Linked DNA regions of Homo sapiens: all the other regions are linked to region 2. The links come from fine-mapping of genetic effects on gene expression. A gene starts in region 2. Each other region holds a variant in brackets. All regions are shown on one strand. Distances are from middle to middle.

What was found. PIP is the estimated chance that this variant, and not a neighbour inherited with it, causes the effect.
Region 1: its variant is fine-mapped to the expression of TIGAR in thyroid (GTEx, PIP above 0.99). The same link has a PIP of 0.9 or more in iPS cells, prefrontal cortex and prostate.
Region 3: its variant is fine-mapped to the expression of TIGAR in whole blood (INTERVAL, PIP 0.98).

The regions. Positions count from the first base shown.
Region 1 is chr12:4,347,975-4,357,973 of GRCh38, forward strand. TIGAR (TP53 induced glycolysis regulatory phosphatase) reads left to right here. Exons shown (of 6, transcript NM_020375.3): 4 at 1,845-1,922; 5 at 3,293-3,403; 6 at 4,286-9,999. The coding sequence ends at 4,717. Among named protein-coding and RNA genes, the nearest start is that of FGF23, 27 kb to the right of the region's middle. The variant C/T (reference allele first, on the strand shown) is at 5,021.
Region 2 is chr12:4,315,904-4,325,902 of GRCh38, forward strand. TIGAR (TP53 induced glycolysis regulatory phosphatase) reads left to right here and starts at 5,310. Exons shown (of 6, transcript NM_020375.3): 1 at 5,310-5,400. The coding sequence starts at 5,369. It also overlaps the pseudogene RPS15P7. RefSeq lists an enhancer at 4,902-5,555 and a silencer at 5,021-5,400.
Region 3 is chr12:4,284,786-4,294,784 of GRCh38, forward strand. It overlaps CCND2 (cyclin D2), which reads left to right. Exons shown (of 5, transcript NM_001759.4): 4 at 4,057-4,205. Among named protein-coding and RNA genes, the nearest start is that of CCND2-AS1, 14 kb to the left of the region's middle. RefSeq lists enhancers at 1,666-1,715, 8,830-9,331, 9,332-9,831. The variant A/G (reference allele first, on the strand shown) is at 5,099.

The DNA.
Region 1 (9,999 bases), 32 kb after region 2:
AAAATAAAAAAGTTAGCTGAGTGTGGTGGCACTTGCCTGTAGTCCCAGCTACTTGGGAGGCTGGGGTGGGAGGATCACTTGAGCTCAGGTAGTTGAGGCTGCAGTGAATCGTGATTGTGTCACTTCACTCCAGCCTGGGTGACAGAGCGAGACCCTGTCTCAAAAAAAAAAGTCCCTTTAAAAAATAAATAAAATAGGAGACATTAGAAGACATGAAGAGCATGATGAGAAGTTCTAATGTCTTTCAGAAAGAGATAGCAGAGAGAATGGGAGGAAGAGGTGATATTCAGAGGTTACAGAATATTGACAATTTTACAGAATTTACAGAATTGTTGAAAGATCCAAGAAGTGTACCAAATCCCAACCAGGATAAGTAAAGAAACCCATATCTACATTCATTATAGCAAAATTGCAAGACTCCAAAGAATGAGGAAAAAACCATCCTTTATTAAAGACCATTAGTTAGGCTGTCAGCAAATTTGTTCATATTGATGATTTCTTTATTGTGCTGAGAAATAACAAGGATTAACCTAGAGTTTTATACCCAGCAAGATTTTTTTCTGCTGTGTAGGTGAAATGACATTTCAGACAAAGAGATTCTGAAGTAACTTTGAAAGGAAAAATGAAAAAGAAGGAAAATAATTGCAGAAGGGAGATCTGAGTTTCAGAAAAGAATAGTGAGCAAAGAAGTTGGTAAAGGTTTAGGAAAATACAAGGAAATATTGACAGTACATATAAAACAGTATGATGATGATGTCTAATTTGTTGGGAAATGTGTTTTTAAAAAAGGCAGATCATGGACCTAAATTATTTCTATGTGACAGGGTCGCTTGTCAATCAAAAATTGCTAGACTTACAATGAGAGAAGGAAATGTGAATAAAAATGAGCTAAAGACAACAGAAACAGCCACATGACTTACCCGATGGAGTTACCAGACATGAGCTTTAAAATAACTATATTTTTGTATAGGTGAAAGATGTAGAATTTCAGTACAGAACTGTAATAAACTGTAAAAAAGAGCCAAATGCAAATTCTAGAACTAAAAATACAATTGGAATTAAGGCTCAATGGATGGGTTTAACAACAATTTAGACACATTTGAATGGCGAATTAAGGAATTAGAATGGGGATTAGTAAACATTTTCTGTAAAGAGCCAGATAGTAATTTTTTTTTAGGGTTTATAGTCTATACAGTCTCTGTTAACACCTGTTCAAGTCTGCGGTAATAGCAAGAAAGCAGCCATCAACTGTGCATGAATGAATGCTGTGGCTGTGTCCCAGTAAAATACTTTATTTGCAAAAGCAGATGATGGTCTGGATTGTGCTGACTTCTGAACTAAAAGATAGGTTAGAAGAGAATATCAAAATCAGGAATGAAGAGACACAGATGTGTACACAGATGTACACAGAGAGGCAACTTTTGCAAAGGAAAATCATTTCTAGTTTTGTTTTTTTTTTTTGAGATGGAGTCTCATTCTGTCACCCAGGCTGGAGTGCAGTGGCGCAATCTCAGCTCACTGCAACCTCCGCCTCCCAGGTTCAAGCAATTCTTCTGCCTCAGCCTCCCGAGTAGCTGGAACTACAGGTGCGTGCCACCACATCCGGCTAATTTTTTGTATTTTTAGTAGAGATAGGGTTTCACCATGTTGGCCAGGATGGTCTCGATCTCCTGACCTCATGATCCACCCGCCTCAGCCTCCCAAAGTGCTGGGATTACAGGTGTGAGCCACCGTGCCTGGTTCTAGTTCTTTTTTATTCACTAAGATGACATAGATTCTTTCAGTGCTTCCACCAGAATGGTGATTATTTTTATAAAGAAAGAAACAATTGTCTTGATTTTCAGACCATGCATGGAATTTTGGAGAGAAGCAAATTTTGCAAAGATATGACGGTAAAGTATGACTCAAGACTTCGGGAAAGGGTGAGTAACTTATTTACATATTGTTCTTCCCCATAAATTATCAGTAAGCCACCTCAGTTTGTCACTTGGCTAAAAGTTAAATGCATTTCTGCTAGGGATTTCGAATCAGTGAAAATATTTAAGAATCTACCATATGACAGTCACTGTTACATACCCTCGTATATAGGATCTTATTATTAAAATCAAACGAGACAAGCATCTTAAGGTATAAAAGAAGGTACGCTCATAAGAACTTAACACAGTATAGAAGAGTTTAAAGTAAAGGTGAAAAATATGGATATTGCATAATTTATGTAACCTAGCTACGCTGATGGAAAGCTAGATTTTCACTAGACTACCACTGATGTAAATAATGTCAAAATAAACATCTTTGTAGTTAATTTATTGTAGACCTATATATTTCTAGAAATGGACATCGGCGAGTGTGTACTTTTTTAAAGGCATTTATATACATATTGCCAAGTTGCCTTCCAGAAAACCTGTGCCAATTTATAGTCCCATGAATGACCTAGGAGAAAGTTTTGTTTTTTTACACCAACAATTGGTATTATTAGACTCTGTGATTTTCCAATTTAATAGCTTAACAATGTTGCCATGTGGCTGGCGTGGTGGCTTACGCTTGTAATCCCAGCACTTTGGGAGGCCAAGGTGGGCAGATCACTTGAGTTCAGGAGATTGAGACCATTCTGGCTAACATGGTAAAACACCATCTCTACTAAAAATACAAAAAATTAGCCGGGTGTGGTGGCACGCGCCTGTAGTCCCAGCTACTCGGGAGGCTGAGGCAAGAGAATCGTTTGAACCCAGGAGGCGGAGGTTGCAGTGAGCTGAGATCGCGCCACGGCACCCCAGCCTGGGTGACAGAGCGAGATTCCGTCTCAAAAAAAAAAAAAAGAAAAAAAAAGAAATAGATCTCTCATGTTAGCGTCTCTGAAACTCAACTTCCTTATAACTATGGTGATATATTTATTTAGCTATTTCATGGTGCTGTCATTGGGATCAAATGGTGTAGTATGTGTGGATGGGAGATGGCTGAATTGGTACCTTGTGCATGTTAATCTCTAGTCCTATAATCTGTGCAAATCTCTGTATTTGTTCAATAAATTCCCACCATCTGCTTGCAATAGCAAGTTCTTCTAAAATAACCCATTTGGACATAGTGTACAACTTAAGATTTCAATTATATTTTCTAAGGTTCATGGCCCTCTACTGAGTACATTCTCATTATCAGTTCAGAGGAGATAGAATCAATTAAGTGGAGGAGAGTTAGCTTATTCCTGGGATGAATGTTCTAAATTTGCCATAAACATAAACTTAATTGTTATATTGCAATTTCATTTGAGAAACTGTTATCTATTGGACTGTTTCAGAAATACGGGGTTGTAGAAGGCAAAGCGCTAAGTGAGCTGAGGGCCATGGCCAAAGCAGCCAGGGAAGAGTGCCCTGTGTTTACACCGCCCGGAGGAGAGACGCTGGACCAGGTATGTGGCGCTGCCGATGTCAGAATGGTTGAATTAAGACTCAAAATTAGATGTTTTGGAATTTTAGCTAAGCAGTTTGAAAGTTGCTTGGTTCATTCTCTTTTCCATTTTAAATTATCTATTTACTTAGCAAATTATTCTTTTCTATTTAAAATCTTATTTACTGTTCAGTTGCCTTTGTCATTATTGATAATGGACTTAAGGAAAGGTGTTATTAGATGGTACTTCTAAAAAAGACCTTTGAATATGAAGCAGTGGCTTAGTGGTGGGAGTGGAGTTCAAAGAGGGTGATCGGCAAGTCACTCGAGGTGAAATAACTCAAAACATGAAGTCTTCAAGCCTCTGCTGCCTCCTCAGCTCTGTTCATGGTGGCATCCCTGTGCTTGCATTTCTTTGGAGTGTTCTGCTTCGAATTGCATATTGGTGATTCCCCCTAACCCACCACCACCTCCTTAATCTTTATCTTAATTTTCTTGAAAATACTTTCCATTACTTTAGTAAGGGAAGGATTTGTTGCTGCTGTTGTTCCAGTGGCACTGAAGTGCCAGAGACAGCTTCCTGGTTAGCACTGTTTTATGAGTTTCTGTTGGCTTGTAGATTTCCCTAACTAGACCGTGAGTGCTTTGAACTCAGGAATTGGGAATTGGATCTTCTTCATCTTGGTCTCCATGGTGCTTTTGTAATTCCAGAAATGTGGTGGATACTTATATATGTCCATGAAACTACTGATTGAACGAATAGAAATGTAGATTGATATTCTTCTGCTTGTGTAGTACTTGGCATTCAATATTAGAAAAAAATCCAGTCAGTTATGTTCTATGTTAACGTTTTAAGGAAGTCATTAATGTCACTTTATTTTGACTTTTATTTCTTTTCTTGTAGGTGAAAATGCGTGGAATAGACTTTTTTGAATTTCTTTGTCAACTAATCCTGAAAGAAGCGGATCAAAAAGAACAGTTTTCCCAAGGATCTCCAAGCAACTGTCTGGAAACTTCTTTGGCAGAGATATTTCCTTTAGGAAAAAATCACAGCTCTAAAGTTAATTCAGACAGCGGTATTCCAGGATTAGCAGCCAGTGTCTTAGTTGTGAGTCACGGTGCTTACATGAGAAGTCTGTTTGATTATTTTCTGACTGACCTTAAGTGTTCCTTACCAGCCACTCTGAGCAGATCTGAACTTATGTCAGTCACTCCCAATACAGGGATGAGTCTCTTTATCATAAACTTTGAGGAAGGAAGAGAAGTTAAACCAACGGTTCAGTGTATTTGTATGAACCTACAGGATCATCTAAATGGACTGACTGAAACTCGCTAAGGTTAAATCTGCATCAAAATCTAACCATTTTGAGCCTCTGAAGGGAGTGCCATTGGCTTTATTTACTTCTCTCCTCTGCTAGTTCTGATTTGGAAACAGTTAAAAGCCAATTTTTAGCTCCAGTGGAACCATAGCCACATAAAACTTTAATGGACAACCATATAGAATTAACTTATTTTGTCCAAGTACAGTTGGCATTTTCCAGAATAATTTTACCACCCTGCTAGATGTCATCTCTGGATTGCACATGGATGATGAAGGAACTCAGCATTGAAAGTTGGGGGATTAGTAACCTTGTTACAA[C/T]GGTTTCTTTTTCATTTTAGCCTATTTTAATGGCTATTGGTAAGATACTGTATGTTTTTAGTATCTCATCCAGTGCTTAGAAGAAAGAATGGTTTATAATTCCCAGTACATGTTTATATTGACTGTGTTATATTTTTAAATCCTTTAAATAAAAAATCCTTATAAGTTTATGTAAAGCAAAATAACACTAACATGTTTTACGTATAAATCAACTATTGGAATTTTTTATTCTAGAGGGCTTGAAATGTGGATGAATACAGATTATGATTGCAGAATGGTCTGGGGGAAGAAGTTAAAACATTTGATTTAAATACAGTAAAGAAAGAATCTTGGAGCAGAAGATAGAAGAACAGCCTTTTCTAAATAATGCCTTGCCAAAGTCAAGTCAATGGAAACCAGGAAAGCCAAAAAAATGAAGAATATCCACTTGCTTCTTATCTAACCTGTAGGCTGAAGAATTTCCAGTTTGAGGAAGGCTCTAAAGAAAGTAAACAGTTAACAGAACACCACACAGTAATCAGAATAAAAGAGGGGCCTTCTTTGTAAAGAATGGTGCTCTGGGCCGGGCCCAGTGGCTCACACCTGTAATCCCAGCACTTTGGGAGGCTGAGGCGGGCGGATCACAAGGTCAGGAATTCTAGACCAGCCTGGCCAACAATGGTGAAACCCTGTCTCTACTACAAATACAAAAAAGCCAGGCGTGGTAGCAGGCGCCTGTAATCCCAGCTACTTGGGAGGTTGAGGCAGGAGAATCGCTTGAACCCGGGAGGTGGAGGTTGCAGTGAGCCGAGATCGCACCACTTCACTCCAGCCTAGGTGACAGAGGGGATGACAGAGGGTGCTCTGCGGGCAGGGAAGGCGGGGTGGTTGGGGGGGAGAGAATGTTGCTCTGATAACCACAGCTGTGGTTATTTTGTGGCAGGTACAGGTGAGGTTGCCTCTTCTTTCCACCAGATGGCACTGGAGAAAAGGGATTTTGATTAACTTAATTTTATACACAAGATTGGTCTTTCAGAAATCTTTATCTAAATGAAGAAACTGTTCTACATGTAGTTCGCTTTTAAGTCACCATGTTGCTAAATGCTGTGAGTCTCAACTTTAAAGAGGGTTAATACTAAAGTTGTCAGTTAAGGCTATAGTCACATATAGTCAAAATTTACTTTGACATCATTTTAAATCATATGTAAAATTCAGTATTATATTGTTCTTAGTGTGTCTAGCACTACCAGTTTTCTACCAGTATTGAAACAGGGCACGTGTTTGAGCATCAGAGGAAGTATACTGTAAATAAAAATTTGAAAAATAAGCAAAAAGGACAGACAATAATTATCTCCATTCCCACCATACTGAAGTCATCTTTCCACTTTTTTTTTTAAAGAAACAAAACATAAAGATAAAAGTAGAGTTCTCTTTAACCAGCTCTCACAGTCCTGTTCCCTCCAGAGGCAGCCACTGCAGTGAGTCTGTGTATATGTTCACCTGTTCATCTGCTTGCAATGTTCATCTGTTCCTTATATTTTCACCTAGTGTCTGGAAGGAGATGGTACTGTTTTGGTGCTTTAAAAATAAATATCAAGCCATCTGTGTTCTTTATTTTTACTTATGTCTTGGAGGCATCTCTGTGTTGATATATATAGATCTAGTTAATTATAACCACTCTATTCTATTAAATATAGCACATTTTTGTTTATTAGTGGGCATTTAGGTATATTCAGTTTTTATTTTCTTTGCTTTTTTTCTTTTTTTTTTTTTTTGGAGACAGAGTCTCTCTCTGTTGCCCAGGCTGGGGTGCAATGGCGTGATCTTGGCTCACTGCAACCTCCACCTCTCGGGTTCAAGCAATTCTTGTGCCTCAGCCTCCTGAGTAGCTGGGACTACAGGCATGCACCACCACGCCTGGCCTTTTTTTTTTTTTTAGTAGAGACGGGGTTTCGCCATGTTGGCCAGGCTGGTCTTGAACTTCTGACCTCAGGTGATCCACCTGCCTTGGCCTTCCAAAGTGCTGGGATTGCAGGCATAAGCCACCGTGCCTGGCCTATGATGCATTTTTTTAATATGTGTTCTTAATTTTTAAGACAAACCAATATACCTTATCCTTTATGGGGTTTTTTTGGTGTGTATCTTTAAGAAGACTTCTCTACCATGAGGTCATACAGTAATGTCTTCTTACAGTTTTTGAGAACTTCTGAATGTCAAATCTTGAAATTGAAATTTGCTTTTTATAGTATAAGGTAAGAATTTAATTTTTTTTTTCATGTGGTTGAAACAGTTATCCCAACACCATTGTAAAGGCTGTTCTTTCCCAATTGGTTTGTGGTGTGTGCTCTCAGGCCTCACACCCCCTCATTTGCTAGAGTCTGTGGACTCTTTTAGTTATCTGTGTATTTCCTTATCAGTGTCATACTTAGTTACTGTGGCTTTGCAGCTGACTGTCTTAAAGGGTGGATACCTCCTCTTGTTCATTTTTAAAGTTGTCTTAACTATTTATGCACTTTTATTCTTCCATATAAATTTTGGAATCAATTGGTCAATTTCCAGAAAAATTCTGTTACAAATTTTATTGGAGTCACATGCATCTCTTCATCTATTCAATACGTATTTTTTGAGCATGGCACACACATGCCAGGCTATTTTAAGAACTACTACAACTATGATAAAGCTGTGAATATGTAGCCATGAACCAAAACAAAGTCTCTGTCCTTGTGGAACATTTGTTCTGTCAGAGAAGACAGTGTGTTGGCTCACATTGTGGTCAGTGCTGTTGAGCAAAATAGGTCAGAGTAAGGGGGATGGAGACTGGTGGGAGGAATGCTGCTTTATCCAGGATGGGCAGGGAGGACTCGATGGTGTCAGCACTGAAGGATGTAAGATCTGCTGCTCTGGGGAGAGGAGCAGCATGGAAGGAGTAGAGTGCAGAGGCCATGAGGAAGGATCAGGCTTGACTCCTTTGAGCAAGGGGGATGGGAGAGTGACGGGAGAAGAGGACAGGCCACATGGCCTGGTGGCCTGTGCTGAGGCCTTGGGCTTTTACTCAAGTGAGATGAGATGCCATTGGCCAGTTTGGGCAGTGATGTGATCAGACTTGTTTCAGCAGGACCATCCTGCTTGCAATGTGGAGAGCAGGCTGTAGGGGGTGCTATAGGAGCACAAGGTTGGAGGCAGGGAAGATGGCAGCACTGGCTGTTGGGCCATTTGAAGAAGCAAGGCCAGGGATGTTGGCAGGGACCAGGCCAGAGTGCCTCCAATGGCTAACTAAGGAGCCTGGACATTGAATTTCTAGGTTAGCTTAGGATTTCTCATCCTCCCATCTGTGAATGTCATAGATCTCTCATTTTGCCTGAGTCTTTTATGCAATGATATTTTATTTGTAATATTTTCCCGGTTTTTGATTGTTTTTTAACAAATGAATTTTTTAAGAGACTTAATTTTTTAAGAGAAACTTTAATTTCCCAGCAAAAGTGAGAGGAAGGTAGAGAGATTTCCCATCTATCCCCTGCCCCTACACACGCATTGCTTCTCCTACTATCAACATCCCCCACCAGACCAGTGCATCTGTTACCATCGGTGAGCCCACATTACACTGACATATCCACATCACCTGAAACCCATAGTTTACATTAGGGTTCATTCTTGGTGTTGCATGATCTGTGGGTTTGGACAAACGTATGAAGACATGTATTCCACCATTATAGTATCATGCAGAGTATTTTCACTGCCCTAAAAGTCCTCTGTGTTCCCTGTACTCATCTTTCCCACCTTGTCTTGCCTGTTTCTGTTAGGTTTAGTCCGAGGCCTAGCAGAGGGAATGGGCAGAAGTTTCCAGTTCCAGGCTTCACCCCAGGCTCGCAGCTTCAAGCAGAGCCTGTCGCTTAGGCTCCCTTGCACCTGGAGTCGAAACCATGGCTCCCATTCACCTGTCTCTTATTTTCCTGTCCTTCCCACTCCTCACTCACCTACTATTCATTTCCATTTTTGGATGAGGATTCTCCTTTATTGCTTTTTAACTAAAAACCTGTTTTAGTTAGCATCTTTATTCTAATTTCTTTAAATGCTATGTCATACTCAGCAAGGACATGCTCATATTAGGGGAAGCACATAAAGTAAGATATCCCTGAGAGAACAGTGCATCTCACACCCATTCCATGGCTTAGGCTTATGCAGGAAGTGCAATATTTGGCCATATCACTTAAGTACATATGCTTATATTATGTATACTTGCATGCATATTACATTTACAAGTAGATGAATTCGTGTAAGTTAAATGGTTCTATTATATGTCTTCACTATATTAAGGTCAGTCACAATTTAATTGAAATAGATCATCCTAGGTGAATCCACCTGGCATAATTATCAGCCCTGTTAAGCACAGACACAGGAGATGCAAAGGAAAGAAGTATTCAGTAGAGCGGTGGTGCTGGGCTGAGTACCTGCTATCAGACGCAGCACTTACCAGTTTGGAAATTGAATGGGGCTCCTAGAAAACATCCTTGTTTCATGTAAATGTTGCTTTTTACCCCTCTTTCTTTGGGCCCCATCAATTTGGAAGTACAGCTTTCAGATTGAAGTATGTGTCAGTTCCTTTGTGTCCAAACAAGATGGCTAAGTAGGTCGTCATGACAGGTAACTACCAGTGCTTTAAAAACTTTAGGATTTCCCCCCACAGTTCTCAATCACTTGGTTCATTGTTCAGCAATATGGCCTAAGGGGGTGATTTCTTCATTGATAAGTGACAGGGCAGGGACACTGGAAAGATCTATTGTCAGAAGGCCTGGATTCAGGTTCAAGGCCTGGTTCTTAGTAATTTTGTGACCAAGCAATCGCTGAGGTGGCTGGGCGTGGTGGCTCGCACCTGTAATCCCAGCACTTTGGGAGGCCAAGGCGGGCAGATCACGAGGTCAGGAGATAGAGACCATCCTGGCTAACACAGTGAAACCTCGTCTCCACTGAAAAATAGAAAAAATTAGCCAGGCCTGGTGGCC
Region 2 (9,999 bases):
ACAAACACTTGTGTGTGAAGCCATGGAAATTCCAGAGTTAATTTGTTACCTCGGCATAACGTGGCCTAATCCAGAATGCCATCATATGATGCGCTTCAACAAAGCACCATTTTTCATTTTTTTAAAAAGGCGTTATGTGATTTGAGAGGCTGTCAACAAAATATATTGGTGGATGGCTGGGTGTGGTCGTTCATGCCTGTAATCCCAGCACTTTGGGAGGCCGAGGCAAGCAGATCACTTGAGGTTAGGAGTTCGAGAACAGCCTTACCAACATGGTGAAACCCTATCTCTACTAAAAATACAAAAATTAGCCAGACATGGTGGTGCAGGCCTGTAGTCCCAGTTACTCGGGAGGCTGAGGCAGGGGAATTGCTATTCAGGAGGCTGAGGTAGGGGAATTGCTTGAACCCGGGAGGCGGGAGGCGGGAGGCAGGAGGATCACTTTAGCCTGGGAGGCAGAGGTTGTAGTGAGCTGAGAGCACACCACTGCACTCCAGCCTGGGGCAATGGGAGTGAAACCCTGTCTCAAAAAAAAAAAACAAACATATATACACATATTTTTTATATATGTATTTATATACGTATACACACACATACACACAAATACATGTATATACATATATACATATATGTACACACATCCTGCTTATAAAATGAACAAGGAGTTCACGTAAACTAATTCAGATAGAACCTGGAAATATATATATAGGGGTATTTCTGGCTTCTCTCTGAATATATATGGATACACACACACACACACACACACATATATACACATACATACATATATGGGTGTTTCTAGCTTCTATCTGAAATACAGTTTAAGTGAACTCCCTGTTCATTTTATAAGTGGAAGGGCAATCCCTGAACCACTGAGTGAATAATGCAGGACAATGTCCACTATTTTGAAGACACCTCATTTTTCAACCTGGTTTTTGCCCCTGATTAGTTTTTCGTTGCTGTTTTTTTTTTTGTTTTTTTGTTTTGTAGCCGTGGTCTCGCTCTGTCGCCAGGCTGAAGTGCAGTGGCACGATCTCGGCTCACTGCAACCTCTGCCTCCCGGGTTCAAGCGATTCTTCTGCCTCAGCCTCCTGAGTAGCTGGGACTACAGGTGCACACCACCACTCCCAGCTAATTTTTGTATTTTTGGTAGAGACGGGGTTTGCCCATATTGGCCAGGATGGTCTTGATCTCTTGACCTAGTGATCTGCCTGCCTTAGCCTCCCAAAGTGCTGGGATTACAGGCATGAGCCACCGCGCCTGGCCCCTGATTCTTAAAATTTATGAAGAATTGTTTTTTAATTTATTCCTTAGATAATTAAAAGAAATAACATTGGTGGATGCCTTGCAACTTTCTAAATTTCTCCTAAAACAATAATCCTCTCCAATATGTCAGCTTTTTTAAATATGTATGCTTCATTAGACAAACTGATCATAACAGGTATTCTTCATTCATTTGACAGATTTTAATGGAATCTCCACTGTGTTCCAAACATTTTCTTAGGAACCAAGGAAGTAATGAAATAGAGCCAGTAGTTACCCTCATGATTTATAGTTTTGAAACCTGGAGTATACTTATCTGGTCTCAAACTCAGTTCTGAGATCTTGAGAGATGGGAAATTAGTTTTTGTTTGTTTGTTTGTTTTTGGAGATGAAGTCTCACTCTGTCGCCCAGGCTGGAGTGCAGTGGCATGATCTTGGCTCTGCAACCTCTGCCTCCCGGGTTCAAGCAATTCCCCTGCCTCAGCCTCCCGAATAGCTGGGATTACAGGCACCTACCACCACGCCCGGCTACTTTTTGTGTTTTAGTGGAGGAGGGGTTTCACCATGTTGGCCAGGCTGGTCTCCAACTCCTGAGCTCAAGTGATCCGCCCGCCTCGGCCTCCCAAAGTGCTGGGATTACAGGCGTGAGCCACTGTGCCTGGCCCAAGAAATGGGAAATTAGTTAACCTGTATGTGCCTTAATTCTTCATCTGTGAAATGGAAATAACTCCTACCTTGCAGAGTTACTGTGTGTATTAAATAAGACAAAATGGGAAGCTGTTTTTATTTAGGCGTTAGAAATGCACTTGGACCACCTTAAAGTGAAAGAGGTTTTACTATACAAACCGGAACTTTCAAGGTATCTGGGACTATGGCAGTTTGAGCGACCAGTGACTGGGTACTCCTTGCATTACTCACTTGTGTCTGTGTCTCTCTGTGTGTCTCTTTGCTTCTTCCATTGACTTTGCTTCTTCGTACCCTCTCCTCTGTTCTCTCACTTGTATTATTTATGGCTTCTGTTTCTTCACAGCTTCAATCACCATGCCCCTTCATAGCCCTAACTCTATCCTATGATTTCTTTCTGTGCTTTCTTTCTGCTTCACCCCTCACAGATAACTACTTAATTTCATTTTTTCAGCTCAAACTTCCAGGAGAATCTGCTGGGATGATTCATTCATTTGGGCATTCAGAACACGGACACGGACACACACACACACACACACACACACACACACACACACACACACACACACACACGATATCTGGGCCCCACTGTTAGGGCCCTCTGAATTATCCCTCCACTCTCATCCTGAAAATGCCTCCTGTTGACCTGCAAGCTGTTAGAGATGCTGAATTTGGTCCCCACTCCAATCTACTAACTCCAGAATCTACATTTTAACACTATGCCCAACTGCTTTGTGTGCACGTTCGAGTTTGTGAAGCATTGCTTTAAACTGCTAGCTCTCAGAACAGCCACTTGTATGTTGGAAACAGCTGGGGATTAAAAGCATACAGATACTGCTGCCTGAGTCTTTCCCCCAGAAGTTCAGATTTGATTTTTCTGGGGTGTAGCCTGGCAAAGGTCTCCAGACGATTCTAATGTAAAGATAGGTTTGAGGACCTCTAAACTAGTTCTGTGTCACCGCTGACCAGTTGTGTGAGCCTAGACAAATCGCTGTCTCTCTCTCGGCCATATTTCTTTTTTTTTTTTTTTGAGATGGGGTCTTGCTCTGTCACCCAGGCTGGAGTGCAGTGTTGGAATCTCGGCTCACTGCAACCTCTGCCTCCCGGGTTCAAACGATTCTCCTGCCTCAGCCTCCCTAGTAGCTGCGACTACAGGCACGTGCCACCATGCCCGGCTAATTTTTTGTATTTTTAGTAGAGATGGGGTTTCACCGTGTTAGCCAAAATGGTCTCTATCTCCTGACCTGCAGATTCTCCTGACCTGCCTTGGCCTCCCAAAGTGCTGGGATTACAGGCGTGAGCCACCATGCCCGGCCATATTTCTCATCTCTAAAGTGAAGATAATGTAGCCTATCCTGTCTACCTTAGAATTGTTCAGAAGGCCAAATGTGATATTACATGTAAGACTGTTTTGAAATGTGTGCCTATGAATCTAAGTATCTCATTCATCTCTTCTCTAAACACATCTTTTCATATATAAGTGGGGATTCAAGGAAATAAATGCATTATGAAATACAAGAATTTAGGTAACAGTGCATGGAAGACAATGTCACCTAGCTAACATTATTGTTACTTGTGTCACATTGCTAGGTACTGCTATCCCAGTTTACCTGTCACAAAACCCAGGGTTAGAGAAGCTCATGTTATAAATAAACTTTCAGTGCCACAAAAGAAATAGCACTCGAATATAAAATTTTCTTTTTAATTCTCAGCAAGGCAAGGTACTTCTATAGAAGGGTGCGTCCTTACAGATGGAGCAATGGTGAGCGCACACTTGGACAAGGGAGGGGAAGGGGTTCTTATCCCTGACGCACGTGGCCCCTGCTGCTGTGTAGTGCCCCACCGCACAGGCTAAACTAATTCCGATTGGCTAATCTAAAGAGAGTGATGGGGGTGAGTGGTTTGGCGGGAAAAACAGTTATGACAGAGCAGGTAATCTGAGTCAGGGTGGCGTAGGTAATGGGAAGGAGTCAGGGTGGAGTAGGTAATGGGAAGGAGTCAGGGTGGAGTAGGTAATGGGAAGGAGTCAGAGTGCAGCAGGTAATCGAAAAAGGTTGTGGCCGGGCGCGGTGGCTCACGCCTGTAATCCCACCACTTTGGGAGGTCGAGGCGGGCGGATCACGAGGTCAGGAGATCGAGACCATCCTGGCTAACACGGTGAAACCCTGTCTCTACTAAAAATACAAAAAATTAGCCGGGCGTGGTGGCAGGCGCCTGTAGTCCCAGCTACTCGGGAGGCTGAGCCAGAATGGCGTGAACCCGGGAGGCGGAGCTTGCAGTGAGCCGAGATCACACCACTGCACTCCAGCCTGGGTGACAGAGCCAGACTCCATCTCAAAAAAATAAATAAATAAATAAAAAAGAGAAGGTTGCTTTAGGAGGAAGTTAAGTTTAAAAGTAAAAAGCAAAGAATTGAACATACTGACATATTGATTCTTTGAAAAGAAATTTAGAACTCATATCTAACATGAAGCAACTCCCTCAACGTTCTGAAGGCTATTAAAGAGAAATTATTCATCTGAGGCTTGTTAAAAACGGCAAGACTTTACTCAAGACTACTGCAATAGGTGAGAGAGACTGAATTCGACTCTAGAATACAACCGGGACCAGTGGAGATTTATAGCCAGGGGGCGGGATGGAAGGGATGAAAGAGAAGATGGGAAATTACCAGAACGTGGTAAGCTATCTGGGGGAGGGGGAGGAGGAACTTTACTAGATATCAAGGGCCTTAGAAGAGAGCATCAACAGTGAGGTCTCTCTTGATAAACAGGCTTAGCAGGATTCTTTGGTAAAACCAGGCTCAGCAGGCCGAGGATGCCGTCTAGTATAGAAAAGGCCTCAAAGGAGCCCGACTAAAGTTTGGTCACGGAGGGCGTCTGTCCCGGCGGAGTTGGGGTGGGTGGGTCTAAGTCTACAGACCTGGCCGACGCTACGTCCCTAAGGTTAGGGACTAACAGACCTCATAGAACACAGTCTGTTGGTCGCTGTACACCCGTGAGGGGTTCATCACAGTGGCCAGCTATAAGACGAACGGTTGCATTCCAGCCTCAATCGCAACAACCACAAATCAGTGCGCCGGCTTCCTTATCTGCCCCGAACGCAGGCTGCCGGCTATCGAGGGAAGGAATCCTACCGCGGACTCCGCGGGCGGGGCCTCCCGCACCTGCCGCGCGCCAATCACAGGCCGGCGCGCAGGGGCGCAAGCGCCGCAGCCCTGGGCGGGGCCCCCGTGGCTCCCTCGTCTCCCCCGCCCCGTCGGCCTCGCCCGGCCCTGAGTGGCCTTCGGGGATGACGTGCGAGGCCGCCTCGGCCTATGGCGGCGGAGCCGGCCGGCTGCTTGGCGGAAGTGGTGTGGGGGAGGTAGCCCGCAGTGCAGGGGCAGCGCGGCGCGGGGCCACCGACGGGACGCGGCTCCGGGAACATGGCTCGCTTCGCTCTGACTGTTGTCCGGCAGTGAGTATGGCTGTGGCAGGATGTCTTTCTCTCTCTCTTCCTTGAGTGTGTTGGAGCGGGTGAAGGGAAAACGGGTCCACCACCCTCTCCCCTCCCTGCTCGCTCCAGCCCGGGAGGGCTGGCTTGGAAGCGCTTTTTCCGGGGCGCTTGCCCTGGGGCCGTCCCGTGTCGCCCCTCCTCTCACCCCAGCAGCCCCGAGGGACGACGGCAGGTCTTAGATAGCTTCGTTCCGTGTTTCAGATAAAGTGAGGCCCGGAGGAGCAAGGGATCGGGGTTCGTAGGCACTTGGTGGCTGCACCAAAAACGGTGCCAGACATGTCCACAGACTTGTCTGGGTACCGATTTTGCTCCCCAGCAGATTGCAAAGAGTTTGCAGAATTGCTCGTCCATGGCTGATGTTTTTGATGCCGGCTGCCTTCCGCTATCCTCTCAGTTTCTGAGGTTCCCCCTCGTTTCCCCAGGCAGTCAGCCCCCCAGGCACATATATGAGACTTCTTTCTTTTCCCCAGAGGTTACAGTTCTGGGAGAGAAAAGAGGATCACAGCTCTGATCTCAGCAGACCGTATCATCCCAAATAAATGTTTTTATTATCATAACGTTACACGGAGCTGCATGCTGATAGGTCTTTATGTATTTGCCAAGTGTTAACGGGAGGTGAAAATCAGGGTAGTTAAGAGCACAGATTTTTATTTTTATTTTTTTTTTTTTGTGAGATGGAGCCTCGCTCTGTCACCCAGGCTGGAGTGCAGTGGCGCTATCTCTGCTCACTGCAACCTCCCGCCTCCGGGGTTCAAGCGATTCTCCTGCTTCAGCCTCCCGAGTAGCTGGGATTACAGGCATGCGCCACCACGCCCGGCTAATTTTTGTATTTTTAGTAGAGACAGGGTTTCGCCATGTTGGTCAGGCAGGTCTGGAACTCCTGACCTTAAGTGATCCGACTACCTCGGCCTCGCAAAGTGTTGGGATTACAGGCATGAGCCACCGCGCCCTGCTAAGAGCACAGATTTTTCAGGCAAGGTAGACCTCGGTTGGAGTCTGTTCTCCAGCTAAGAGCCAGGTAGCCTGGACTTAAGTTTCCTGATATGCAAATGATAGTGCGTATCTCACTACTTTAATGCGAGAATTAAATGGGGGACAGGTAAAGTGTATGATGCAACAGGGAAAGAAATATATCTGAGAAATAACTTCTATAAAGAAAGCTCCAATAAAAGTGCAGTTGATTCCCAAATACGAACGTATAGTTCAGCACACCAGCATTTTGAGTAGGTAATGTGTGCCAGTAGACTGGATCATACAGATAAATAACATACCATTTCTGCATTCATGGAGCTCACAAAGGACATTAATATGATTTAACTTTGTCAATTGACTTTAACAGCTATCTTTTCTGGCCTGTCCTTCCTTTATAAGAAAGATAATCTTAAGAATCCTCTAAAATTGTCTGTTTAGGATTAGCAGGATTTTAATGGCTACCTTAGAAATCTAGTTCCTCACTATCTCTTCTCCCACCCCTCTCGGTTGTATAGAATGCCTTGGGAGAATTCTTAACTTACTAAAGGTCACACAGCTAATCGGTAGCAGAACAGGAACTAGAGGCCTGATCACCCTTTCTTCCAATGTTAGTGCACTTTCTAGACGCCTGACCCAGCCAGCCCAGTGTCATATTTATAATTGAAACTCAGACCATCAAGGTGGTTCACCCCTGTAATCCTAGCACGTTGGGGGGCGGAAGTGGGTGGATCCCTTGAGCACAGGAGTTCAAGACCAGCCTGGGCAACATGGTGAAACCTCCTCTCTACAAAAAAAAAAAAAAAAAGCTGGCTGTGGTGGTGCATGCCTGTGAACCTAGCTAATAGGGAGGCTGAGGCAGGAAGATCACTTGGATCATGTGAGCCTGGGAAGTGAGGGCTGTAGTGAGCTGTGATTGGGCCACTGCACCCCAGCCTAAGCGACACAGTGGGACCCTGTCTCAAAAAGAAAAAAAAGAAAACTCAGAAGTTGTAGAATATTTGGGGTAAGGCAACCCCTAAAAAGTAAGATGATTCCTATTTAGATTCCTAATAGACAATAGTCATATAAATATGGATTTTATTCCCTTTCTGCTGCTTAAAAAGGGTTTGATTCCGGAGGCCCTCATAGGAATCATTTAAAAAATAAGTCTTAATAAATGATTATTTGCCAGGCACTGTTGTAATTAAAATCTGACAGTTTAGTGAGTTAAGGACTGATATCCTCATTTTTCACATGAGGCAGCTGAGACAGAGACGCCTTGTAACTTGCTTAAAGTCACATGGCAAGTTGAGGAAGTAGGAGTTTAACCAAAGCAACTTTACCACTCACCGTCTTTTGTTTCCTACTTAATTTGTTAAAACCCGGTATTTGTAGATTACTTGAACATCACCAGCCATTTTTGAGGCTACTTTTTAGTCTCTTAATATAATTGTGTGGAGTTATGACAATAGTTTATTTTGTTCTGTTTTATGTGTAGGAAGATGGAGTGAGAGGGCTGGTTCAATGCTTTCCGGTCTGGATCCTCCTGCTTCTTGCCTTCAGAGTTCTCAAAACCAAAACCTGGTGATTCTTTCAGGAAAAGAAGTGATTTTTAAATTTGACTCATTATCACCATAGTTAAATGTAATGACTTTTTGAAGAGTTAGATAATTTTATTGGACTTACCTCTTCAGATAATGCAAAAAAATCTTTAAAGCAATTTAAGTTCAACAGAACCTGTTAGGAATCTTGTGCTGTTCCTGTATGTGGTTTATCTTTCTTCATACTTTGAAATGAAAGTACCAGTGTGTATCATTTCTGGAACAGACTGCCCAAGATTCCAGAATTCAAGTCTATCATCATTGTCAGACTATAACTTCTCATGAGCTTATGGCACAGCATTGTTGAAAACTCCAACACGTGTAGGTTGGCATTACCATCACCTATCCAGCACTACTGAAGGGTCTGGTTCCTTGGAATGTTGTAGGTGTTTGCAGTGAGTCCCCGGCAAAACCATCCATTTAACTTCCTTTTTTTTTTTTTTTTTGGAAATATGTGTGCCTTTATTAGCTGAGCCACTACTTGAGGGGGATGAAGCGGGAGGAGTGGGTGGCCCCGATGCCGGGCCGGCAGTGCTTCACCAGCTTATAGGTGATGGAGAACTCGCCCAGGTAGTGACTGATCATCTCCGGCTTGATCTCCACCTGGTTGAAGGTCTTGCCGTTGTAGACGCCCACCATGCTGCCCACCATCTTGGGCAGGATGATCATGTCCCGCAGGTGCGTCTTCACCACTTCCGGCTTCTCCATGGGCGGTGCCTCCTTCTTGGCCTTGCGCAGGCGCTTCAGCAGCGAGTTCTGTTTCCGCCGCAGGCCCGGGTTCACTTGCGGCCGCTGGCACGCACTGTACAGCTGCGTCAGCTGCTCGCAGGACACGTCCCGTCCCGCAGCTGGTCCAAGTCTGTGCCGCGGTAGGTGAGTTTGCGGAAGGTCCGCTTCTTCTGCTCTACCTCGGCCATCTTGTCGGATCCTCAGAAAAGTTCACTTCCATTTTTAGGCAGCTCGTAAAGCTTTAAAATTTTTTGGCAAACTAAATTTAATATACTTTTAATGATTTAAAAATGAATTAGTAAAGTTTTTTTGTTTTTGCTTTTTTTTTTTTTTGACGAAACGGAGTTTCACTCTTGTCACCCAGGTTGGAGTGCAATGGCATGATCTCCGCTCGCCACAACCTCCGCCTCCCGGGTTCAAGCGATTCTCCTGCTTCAGCCTCCGGAGTAGCTGGGATTACAGGCATGTGCCACCATGCCTGGCTACTTTTGTACTTTTAGTAGAGATGGGGTTTCTCCATTTTGGTCAGGCTGGTCTCGAACTCCCGACCTCTGGTGATCCGCCTGCCTCGGCCTCCCAAAGTGTTGGGATTACAGGCGTGAGCCACCCCACCTGGCCGAATTAGTAAAGTTACTGATAGCAAAACTGATTTTTCTTACTGTACTTTTATTGGCAGTTACTTTTTGTGTAATGCTAATAATTGTTCTGTATATTAATAAAGCAAGCAAAATACTATTAGCTCATCTGTAATTTAGTATTTTTATAAAGCTAATACTTTTATAAAATTTTAATGCTCTATAAAAGTATAAAGATACCTTGTACAGATACTTTATAAAGATCAAAGACAGCCGAAAGTCCTGCAATCCCAGCACTTTGGGAGGCCGAGGCGGGTGGATCACCTGAGGCCGGGAGTTCAAGACCAGCCTGGTCAACATGGTGAAACCCCGTCTCTACTAAAAATACAAAAAATTAGCTGGGCGTAGTGGCACTCGCCTGTAATCCCAGCTACTCGGGAGGCTGAGGCAGGAGAATCTCTTGAACCCGGGAGGTAGAGGTTGCAGTGAGCCCAGATTGCGCCGTTGCACTCCAGCCTGGGCAACAAGAGTAAAACTCGTCTCAAAAAAAAAAAAAAAAAAGAAAGACCACCAAAAGTCTTGTGTTACTAGCTCTTGAAATCTTCTATATTTGCAAATGAATGTATTAGTGTAAAGGAATTAGGACTAAGCTGTATTCGTGATATCAGGTGAGGGTTTACATTTTCATTTACACTAAAGAACAG
Region 3 (9,999 bases), 31 kb before region 2:
GAGTGCATGGCACAATCTCTGCTCACTGCAACCTCCAACTCCCGGGTTCAAGTGATTCTCTTGCCCAAGCCTCCAGAATAGCTGGGATTACAGGCGCGTGCCACCATGCCTGGCTAATTTTTGTATTTTTAGTACAGACAGGGTTTCACCGTGTTGGCCAGACTGGTCTCGAACTTCGGACCTCAGGTCATCTGCCCACCTCGGCCTCCCAAAGTGCTAGGATTACACTGTGAGCCACTGCGCCCAGCCTTCAAGAGCCCCCTTTCTTTGAGAAGTTTCTTCAGAAGTTATCCATATAGTAGTACAGACCTAGCCATTATAGCACACCATCCTCTACTATCTAATGCATTGATGCCCAGCCTTAAGAAGTCTGAATATTGTACGTTTTGGGGGGAGTCCTCCATGCTGCCTGGAACAGGGAGGAGCACATTGTCATGAGTCGATCAGAATGGATCGCTGATCGGTTCATTGCCTCTCTCTCTGCTGCAGGAGGAAGGATCTCAGGAAGTCACCAGCATCTCACCTCTCCAGGTGGGCAATTAACGATGGCGAGGGCACACCCTCACCCCTGAGCGTGCCTTCTGCACCAGCATATTGCTTGTTGGCATTTTTGATCAAGAGACTTAACAGACTGCTGAGAAATTTGTACCTGGTTTTTATTTGTTAAAATAATATTACGTACAAATTTTACAAACTCATCTGTGTTTCTCCCACCTAACAGAACAGCTTTTATTTTCCGTGCATCCTTCCAGTTCATCCATAGGCATATATGTATGTATTTACCCATGGTTGTAATCTTCATCGTCGCATGCATGCATGCAATTTGGTTTTCCGCTTCCTTCTTCTGAGTGGATATTGTGACCATTTCTCCATCCTGTCATAGCGACAAAGCTGATGGTTTCCAGGAATGGCTGCATTGGGTAGGTGGAGCTTTCCACAGTTGAGGGTGGGGGTTGGCTAATTACAGCTAGGAAGCTAGTGCACAGATGAAATGATGTTTGATTTTTTTGTTTTTCTCTCTGTTCAGTATCCCCTACCAGTAGAGAGGGGGATGTCCTTGAGAGTGGTCCTGGGGCAGCCCTGGTGCCACGGGGAAGTAGCGCCGCTCTGTGGAGAGGGCTGCTTTGTGAATTTGCCGGCTGGTAGACACCGTGATCCATTCTATTGTCTCCTCATTGTTCTTCTCCTTGGGAGTCATTCCCATTCCAGATCCTCAAGTAAGAGCAAAGTAGACCTGTAAGGCACCTGGGAGGTTATCCTGCTTACTATCTTTAAACTCTTGACCTAAGCCATGTAGGAAGAAACACATTTTATAACACAACTCAGGATACTTGTACAAGTATATCAAACTGATACAAAAGTTTCTCCGAACAATATTTACTCTTAACGACATACGGTGAGCCTGATACTTTCTATCCTACTCTATTTGGTTAAAGGAGAACAACAACAGAAAGTGCTGGTCACGACCCACAAATGCATTTCATGACCCATTAATGAGTTGCAGCTAGAAGTTAGAAAAACACTTATCTCACCCAACCCGTTATTAGACAAATGGGAAACCAAGCCCTTGGAAAGAGGAAGTGACTTGCCCACAGTCCCACGTCTGGACCTAGCTGGAGGGCTGATGTTGCCTCAGTATTTGACTAACCTGGAGGAGAGGTGGGGCATGCTCAGGGATCCCGAGGAAGATGCTCGTCTTCTGTGTAGCGGGCAACAGAGGGCAGCACGGCCGCCGTCCTCGTCTCCAGCGGCGTCTCTCCTCTGGCTGTGGGAACACACTGCTCCTTTGGTGCCACTCTGAGCTGCTGAGAGGCAGTCAAGTTCATGCACATAGTGCTCCCCAATTCTGTGGGATTGGACAGTGTCCCCAAGAGGACTCCCCTGAAAATCTTCTTAGTAAAACAAAAAGGGAGGTAGAGTCTCCCTGTGCAACCGGTGCACCTGTTCCCCCTATGCCTGCTGGCTTCCAGAAGTTCATTCGTATGCCAATAATAAGAGTTGGTTTTGCTAGCAGTGGGACAGCAGAGATGGGCATGTGTGAGGTGTGCTTCCCGGTCTGAGGCCTATGGCAGAGGGAAGGGAGGGCCGGGGATACTTGCCTGCCTCTTCCCTGGCAGATGCTCCCACCCGGGCCTTTGTGGGCCCAGGGCCATGGGCCGGCTGCCCCGCTTGTGTTATGAATGTCACAGGGGGGAGCTAACGAGGTTATTGGGCAGAGAAACACTCTCCTGTGACCCATGTGGAAGAGACCTACAGCAGAGCAAGAGGCAGGGAGGCTGGCTTTGTCACACTGTTCATGGCGACAGAGAAGGCGTAGGAGGGGCGGGTGGACAGCAGGCGTGGGCGCAGCACCATTATATACGTCCCTCAAGAGGTGGAGATGGTGAGAGGGCAATGGAGAAAAAGCCAAGGAGACAGGCAGATGGCCAGGTTTGCTCTGCGTTCATGATGGGAGGGGAGGGCTGTGCTTGGCTCAGGGATCCACGGTGTCTAACAATGCTGCTAACTTGATGCTGGGGCAATGGGCTGACCATTAAAAGAGCTGCTGTAGAAAGTGTGTTTGTAATAGAGTGTGTACAGGAGGAAGGGGAAATAGGAGAGGGGCTGGTTTTTGTAGATTTAACCTGATTGTTTTTGCTGTAAGTTGAAGGGTGACCCACGGTTCCCTGTATGCTGTGTCTCCTGCCCCCACGTGCCCCTTCCATGTCTACACACAGTAAGCTCACTAGAGCAATGCTAAAACGAGAAAGAGTACGCTTTGGAAGACTTGCTGCACTCCAGGACCGTCACTAGCGTGATGGCTGCAACTATACCCACCCTAATATCTGTCAACACGAGCAGGGGCAACTTAAACTCTCAAAAGTCTCAGGGTTCTCACCCATACCATTAGGGTGACGCTCGTGTGCATCTTCTGTGGCTGATGGGTAAATTAAACAGGACGTAATGTGTAGCGTACTGCATGTGGTGGTCATTGGTAGCTGTCAGCAGCTGTAACAGGAGAAGTTGGCTGTCTTTATTTCCCCTCGATGGACCAAGCAGCTGCTGGATCATGGCCACCCAGCCCCTCTGAAGGAGTGCTCGGAGGAACACAAGGGGGCTGGTCTTCCAAGAGGAGCCCTCTAGCATGGCAGTGGACGGGGTTCAAGCCCCTCTGATTTATTATCCTCATTCTGCACTTCCCTGTAGCAAGTCACATTTTTTTCTCTTAGCAATAAAATGGGGCCTTCAGTCTCATGAGTCATAACATCGAAACCGAGTCACCCATCTGATTCGGATGCAATGATTAATCTTCAGTGCTTAGTTAGAGCCCTATGTTAGGGTTAGAATCCTCTGCCCTAATGTTCTGAGGGTTCTTGCTGTTGGGCCAGAGGTTGGGAACTGGGTGGAACTCAGCCCCCACTCGCCCACTCCCTGCATTGCTGCTTCTCTCATTTCCTTTTTTAGATCAAACCTTTTTTTTTTTTTTTTGGGTGGGGGTCATATTAATCCTCAATGCCTGTCCAGAGACTATAACAAGATCCCATCTGAATTAGCATTATGCATAGATTTTGCCCGTTTCTCCCATCTCCTTGTACTTTCCCTCCTTCTCACATCTGGAGCCCCTGGTCTGTCCTGCTTGCATGGCCCATGGGGTACCTTGTCTGCACTGGTCTCAGGCATTCTCTGCTCTGTTCCCACCATCACCTCTAGAGGAGACTATGACTCGCTCACCTTGCTCCCCCCACCAGGGTCAAGAATGTTAACTCAGACATGCTTAATATGACTGGGATCTGGGGATTGGGGACCTTGAATCCTCTGTGCATTCATTGTGTGCGCTTAGATAAGCTGTCTTCCTTCCCTGCCTCAGTCTCCTTCGTTTAATCTGGAACAGCCATGGTGATGGCAAATAAACACAGGCTCCTTGTGAAAGAACTCGAGGGAGGACATGCCTGTAGGGCACGGGGTCACTCGCGCCGCTGACCTGCTGCCGTCCTGTTTCTGAGTCTCTGCAGTCTCGGGAGCTCCAGGATCCAAATTCGTTCTGTGCCCTGACCTTCTGCCTCTCATTCCTTGCAGACTTTAAGTTTGCCATGTACCCACCGTCGATGATCGCAACTGGAAGTGTGGGAGCAGCCATCTGTGGGCTCCAGCAGGATGAGGAAGTGAGCTCGCTCACTTGTGATGCCCTGACTGAGCTGCTGGCTAAGATCACCAACACAGACGTGGTAGGTGGCCACCACCTTCTTGGCTAAGTCCAGATGTCTCTTCTCAGCTCAGGGAAGGAGACGACGGATTTGATTATGTTGTGTCAGAGGTATTTTTCTGGTTTGTTTCCTAAGATCGACATCCAAGGGAGTGCAAAGTTCAGCAGGTGACACCCCCTCTTAAGGTTCTGAAAAGCTGTGCACGGGAAAATACGGAAGAAAACTCAGCAAGCAGATGAAGGGGGTGGGGGTGGGAGGGCTGTTTACCGATGTTCCTTTATGGCGTGGGCTTCTCAGTGGGTCTGAATTGTTGCTTCATTGCCATATTTGTACACGCTGCCAGGCTGCCTCTGCCCGGCAGCGAAGAGCTGCCGTGTCTGCTTTCACACGCTGAGGCTGTAAGGCGCACAGAGGAGAAAGGAGAGCCAGGACTCAGCTGCAGTGGATGGAGCAGACACACAAGAGGTGCCCCACTGTGAGAACGGTGTCCGTCCCTGGCAAACCTCTCGACCCCTCCCCGCTCTCTCTTCCCTTTTGTTCAATGCAGTAATGGATTACAAAGTGCTTTCAAAAGACAAAGTGCCATACAAACTCAAGAAACTATTATTAGCTACGGAGCTTCCCCATTCTGTGTGCCCTGTGGACGGCCCAGAGGCTGTTAACTTCCTGTTGCCAGAATTTGGAGCTCCTGAGAAGAAAGGTTTTGAGAGAGACCAGGGTCAAGTGAGCCTCTGAATTCAATCAGCAGGAAGCTGCAGTCCTAGCCCGTCCGAGACAGGATGGTGCCAAGAGGTCAGAGAGGCCATTCCTTCGTTTTCCACGGGCAGGACAGGGACTGAAGTAACCAGCCAGGAGCGGGGTGGGCAGTGGCTGAGCTGGGGCTAGAACCCCCAGGCTCCGACTGCCCCCTGGAA[A/G]CTTCCCACTCCACCCTTGTTGCCGCTCCTGGGATCTTTTGGTTTGAAAAAAAACCCTGGGGTTTAAAGTCAACCTGAGAGAGGGGTGTTGGCCCTGAGCCCTCATGCATCACCATGGAGAGGCTGAAGAATGCTGGGCACTTCACGATGACACCCTCTGGATGGTCCGGGGGGATTCAGATGCCCTCTGCGGGCTTTTATTGAGTTAAGGGATCATGTGGTTTATAGGCCTATGGCTGAGGCCTGCACGAGGGATACGGGACAGGTTAAACCTCAGAGAGCCCACGGCTGCAGCTCGCCGGCCTCCTCGCCCGCCCACCTGGATTTTCCCTGGCATTTGTTCCCAGCTCAGAGAAATGGCGCAGGGAGATGCTGACGGAGCAAATCCGGGGTCCTCCTCTGAGATAGTTCGTAGATATGGTTTTAAAATGCGGGCTCCAAACATACGCTTTTTAAACGAGGACTCCAGAACACAGACTGAAAACCTCCCTCCAGTGCAGCATGAAGAATGCTTTTCTAATCCTCCAGAGGAAAATCGTGGACGGGACTTAACGTTTATAGAAATGGTACGCTTTCCTCCTTTTCTGAATGTCTCCAATTAAGGCTGCCTTACAAATAGGACTCTCAGCCAGTTTAAGACAAGCCCTTCCTCAATGCCTGGAGACAAAAATGTCAGTGACAGGAGTTGGAAGCGGCCACCCCCCTCCTCCTGCCCCCAGGCATTGTAACCTTTTCCCCCGATGTTGATAGACCTGCTCTGATGGGCTGACCACCCTACCGGCTCCAGCCTTTTCCCACCTCCCTTTGTCCCCCGTTACTGATCTCACATGGACAGTGGTGGAAATTTCCCTCCTGGGAGTTGCTGCTGAGTCTCTTGGCTTTTCGAGACCGCAGGCAAGTCAGTCCGTCATCTCATCTGGGGAAACTGTTTGCCTTTTTCTGATACTACGTAGCCAGTCCATTTAAGTCAGCTGGCCAACTCTGTTAAATGGATATGAAGTGGGTACGAAGCTGGTTTAGGGGTGTCCTCCTATAAATCCTAACTGTTGGTCAAGTTGATACCTCATTTCTATAATGGGCACACGCCGTGTTTCCTAACTGGGGCTGCCTGTGTGTGCCTCATTCACACCGGTGGACCTGGGTTGAACATGTTCATATTTAAAAACCAAGAGTGAACGCGGTGAAATGTACAATTCATAACACTTTTTCAAAGAAAAATCTGAGCCCTCAGGAAGTTCCAGGCTTACCTCTGGCACCCCGGAGGCTGGTTCGCTCTCCCTGAAAATGTTTTTAGTGGAAAGGTTCAAGCAGCTCTGGGCTAGGCTGTGTGTGTGTGTGTGTGTGTGTGTGTTTATGCACCTTTCCAAGTGCTAAATCTCCTCCCATCCATCAGCCTGTGTTCTCTGAAAAGCTGACGCTCAGAGGGAAGAAAAATAAAAGGACTAGAATTTAGAACACATTAGTGTTTGGAGGGAGGTGAGTTGTGCTTCCTGAGCTCTGTTTACCATTTCACGAGTCACGAAGTGGTGTATTTCCTTCATTCGTTTCTGGAAGTCTTTACTGAAGGCCCAGTTGTTGCTAGAAGTTGGGGTGGATGGTGGCATCTGGGAAATAGAGGATGAGATTCCTGCCTTCAAGGAACTTAGCAGTTGTATGATGAAGCAAGAGTAAAGCGTGCAAAACCCTAGCAAATTAAGAACGTAAACAAAGGTGTGCTACGTAACGTGTTACGAACCCTAAATGCAGTAGGAAATCAACCCAAAAGAAGGAGCTCATCAGGCCTAACGTAGAATGCCGGCCTCCCAGCAGAGAAAACTTGGTGATAGAAACTGTTCTTAGAGTAGAGAAACAAAATGTATGGGCACGCAATGGAATATTATTCAACCTTAAAAAGAAATGAAATTCCGATCCATGTTATAACATGGGCGAACCTTGAAAATACTATGTTAAGTGAAACGAGCCAGACACAAAAAGACAAATACTGTATGATTCCACTTATACCAGGTACCTGGAATAGTCAAATTCGTAGAGACAGAAAGTAGAATAGAGGTTCCCAGGAGTCTGGGGAGAGGAGAGGATGGGGAGTTAGTGTTTAATGCGTACGGAGTTTCAGTTTGGGATGATGAAAACAATTCTGTAGATGGAGAGTTCTGATGGCCACACAGCAGTGTGAATGTACTTAATGCCACTGTACATTTAAAAGTGGCTGAAAAGGGAAATTTGACATTATGTGTATTTATGATAGTAAAATGTGTGTGTGTATATATGTATATACACACACATACATAAATGGATATATATATATGTATGTATGTATGTCTGAAACATTCTCGGGCCACGCTATGAAATGCCCATAGGTTGATGTTGAGCTCTTCCCTGGAAAAGTGAAATACACAGGACCACATTTTGCCCCCTGGCCCTAGTGCATTGACAAACGGGAATCAGGAAGAGCTGACAGTTTCCCCCAGAGCCCCTGAAGTTATATGTCAGCTCCTACACACCTTGCTGTTTCTGATTTCTTCAAGCTTGCAATGCTCTCTGTTACTTTGGGGGTTAGGTCGTGGGTTGTCGGGGATCGAGCTGTGGAAAGAGGGTCCCCCTGATTCTTGTGAGATGGCCAGGCGAGTCTCTGTGGTTCATTGGCCAGGAGCAGATAGCTTTGATATGAGGGACGCATGCGGCTCTGAGAAAGTCGGCCTTTGTTGCTCCGTCTGGTTGCCAAAATAAACCAGAACGCTTCATTCCAAAGAGAAAGCTGAGTGAGGGGCCTGACAGTTTTATAGGGAATAAACGTCTCAGAGAGTGGTATATTTTAAATACTTTTTCCTTCCAATCGTAAGAGTTGCTAAAAACAGCCAGAGAGGCAGTTTGGCTGTAGGGGGGACGTCTATTGGGGGTGTCCAGTGCCTGGGTAGGTTTGAGAGGGGAGGGTGCCACTGGCCTGGGTCCCCGGTGACCATGGCCCTGCTTCCTTGGGCTGAATCGGGGTCCTCTTCCATCCCCTCTGCACACTAGTCGGGCTGCGTGCCAGCATTGATCTCACTGCTTCCTTGTCTATAGAACCTCTTGAATAAGGCCCAGCTTTTCCTCAGCTCTTTATCCAGAGCCCCTGGCAGAGTCATTGGGAGTGATGCTTAAGAGAGGAAGGGAAGAGGAAGGAAGGAGCAAAGGACAAAGGCAGGCAGATGGGTTTCCAGTGGGTTTCCGATTCACTGGTCTGTCCATGTCCTTTGAAAAGCTGTGTCTTTTCTTTAACTTCAATTCTGTGTCAGGGCCTTCCGAGCCTTCTGAGTTTTCCCCAACCTTATCTTAGAGTAGGTTAAATGAAGTGGCTTCATTTTCATATGACACAGTTGCACAAATTCACTAACTAAAAAATGGAATGGAGGCTCACAGGCCATAAAGGTGTTGTGAAGTTATTGCAAGATACTTAACAGAAGAAAGACTCTAGTCATCTGTTCCTTATATTTATCCTTTTTTGTCTAAGTCACATCAAAACTCTTTGTCACATTCTTTAAAAACAAAAAGCAAAAAACAAAACTTTAGATTCAGGGGATCCATGTGCGGTTTGTTACGTGGATATATCGTGTGATGCTGAGGTTTGGGCTTCAGTCGAACCCGTCACCCAGACAGTGTACACAGTACCCAATAGGGAGTGTTTCAACTCTCGTCCCTGTCCCTAGACACATTCTTAAATATTGCCCAGAGAAGATTCCAGGATATCCCTTCCTTAGGGTCATCCTGGCATTTTACGGTCCTGGTTATCAATGAGCTATTAAAAAGCAGGGAGGTGGAGGCGCCGTGGAAGAAGTCTCAGTTTCGACCACATGTGTGTGATTCATGGGGTTTAGCATTGTGTGTTTCTGCTCCGTAGCTGGAAGTGCCGCCACCCTCGCCCCACATGTCATTTTCAAGCCTCCACTGTTACAGATTCTGTCTTCTGTGGACTCTTCAGGGCCTGTGGTCAGGAACCTTGTGAAGTGTTGCTGGAAGCTGGGGGTGGGGAGGTGGAATAGAATCGGGGGCTGATGCCTCCCTCTCCTGCCTCATTTTTCTGTGGGCCTCATTTGGTATGCAAGGAAATAAGCCAAACAGCCTGTGAAGAAAGGAAGAATGAGATAGTTTCCTAAGTTGTCTCTGCCTGAGTTGGCCGCGGGTCTGGGGCTCATTCAGCCCTTTGTCCCCCTGTTGAGTGCAGTGCGTGTGTGGTGACAATGAGGTGGTGCAGTTACACTGAGGGCTAATGGTAGGAGTTCCGTCAGCCCATTCATGGAGGCAGAGGAGGGTGCAGGGCGCGGAGCTCGAGCCAGCAAGCAGAGGAAGTCAGAGGCCCTTGTAACGAGCTGAAGATCACAAACACTGCTGTGAGGGCTCCAGGCTTGGGGGCGGGGGCAGCCAGGAGGGAAGGGGGCAAGGGAGGGGGCCTATCATCATAGAAGTTGGAGGTCTGCCCGACCGCCAGCGCGGTAGGGTACCACCTGTCCAGGCTGACAGACGAGCATTATGGCTTCCCTTTTAATCAGCTTAATTTGGGGCATCTTAACACAATGGCTGGTGCTTTGGAGGCTGCAGGAAAGCTGATGTCCTAGAGCCGCCACACTTGACATGCGTGTAACACCTTTTGATTAGAGGCGCTTTCGTGTTTTTCCAGCCACTTGGGCTCTGTCTCTTTTTCTTGGAGATTCTCTGGTCTGTATGTCTTTACTTAGAGCTTAGAAGTCAAGGTATATAGGAAAAAGGAGTTCTGAAATTGGAGGCTTGCCCTTTCTAAAGCCAGTCTGAGCTTTCAGCCAGATGTCACTGGGACAAGCCACGTCAACTCTCCACGCTCCATTCCCTAGCTGGGAAACGAGGGCATTTGGCTATTTGATTTCCAGAGGCCCTTTGGACCTCCAAATTCT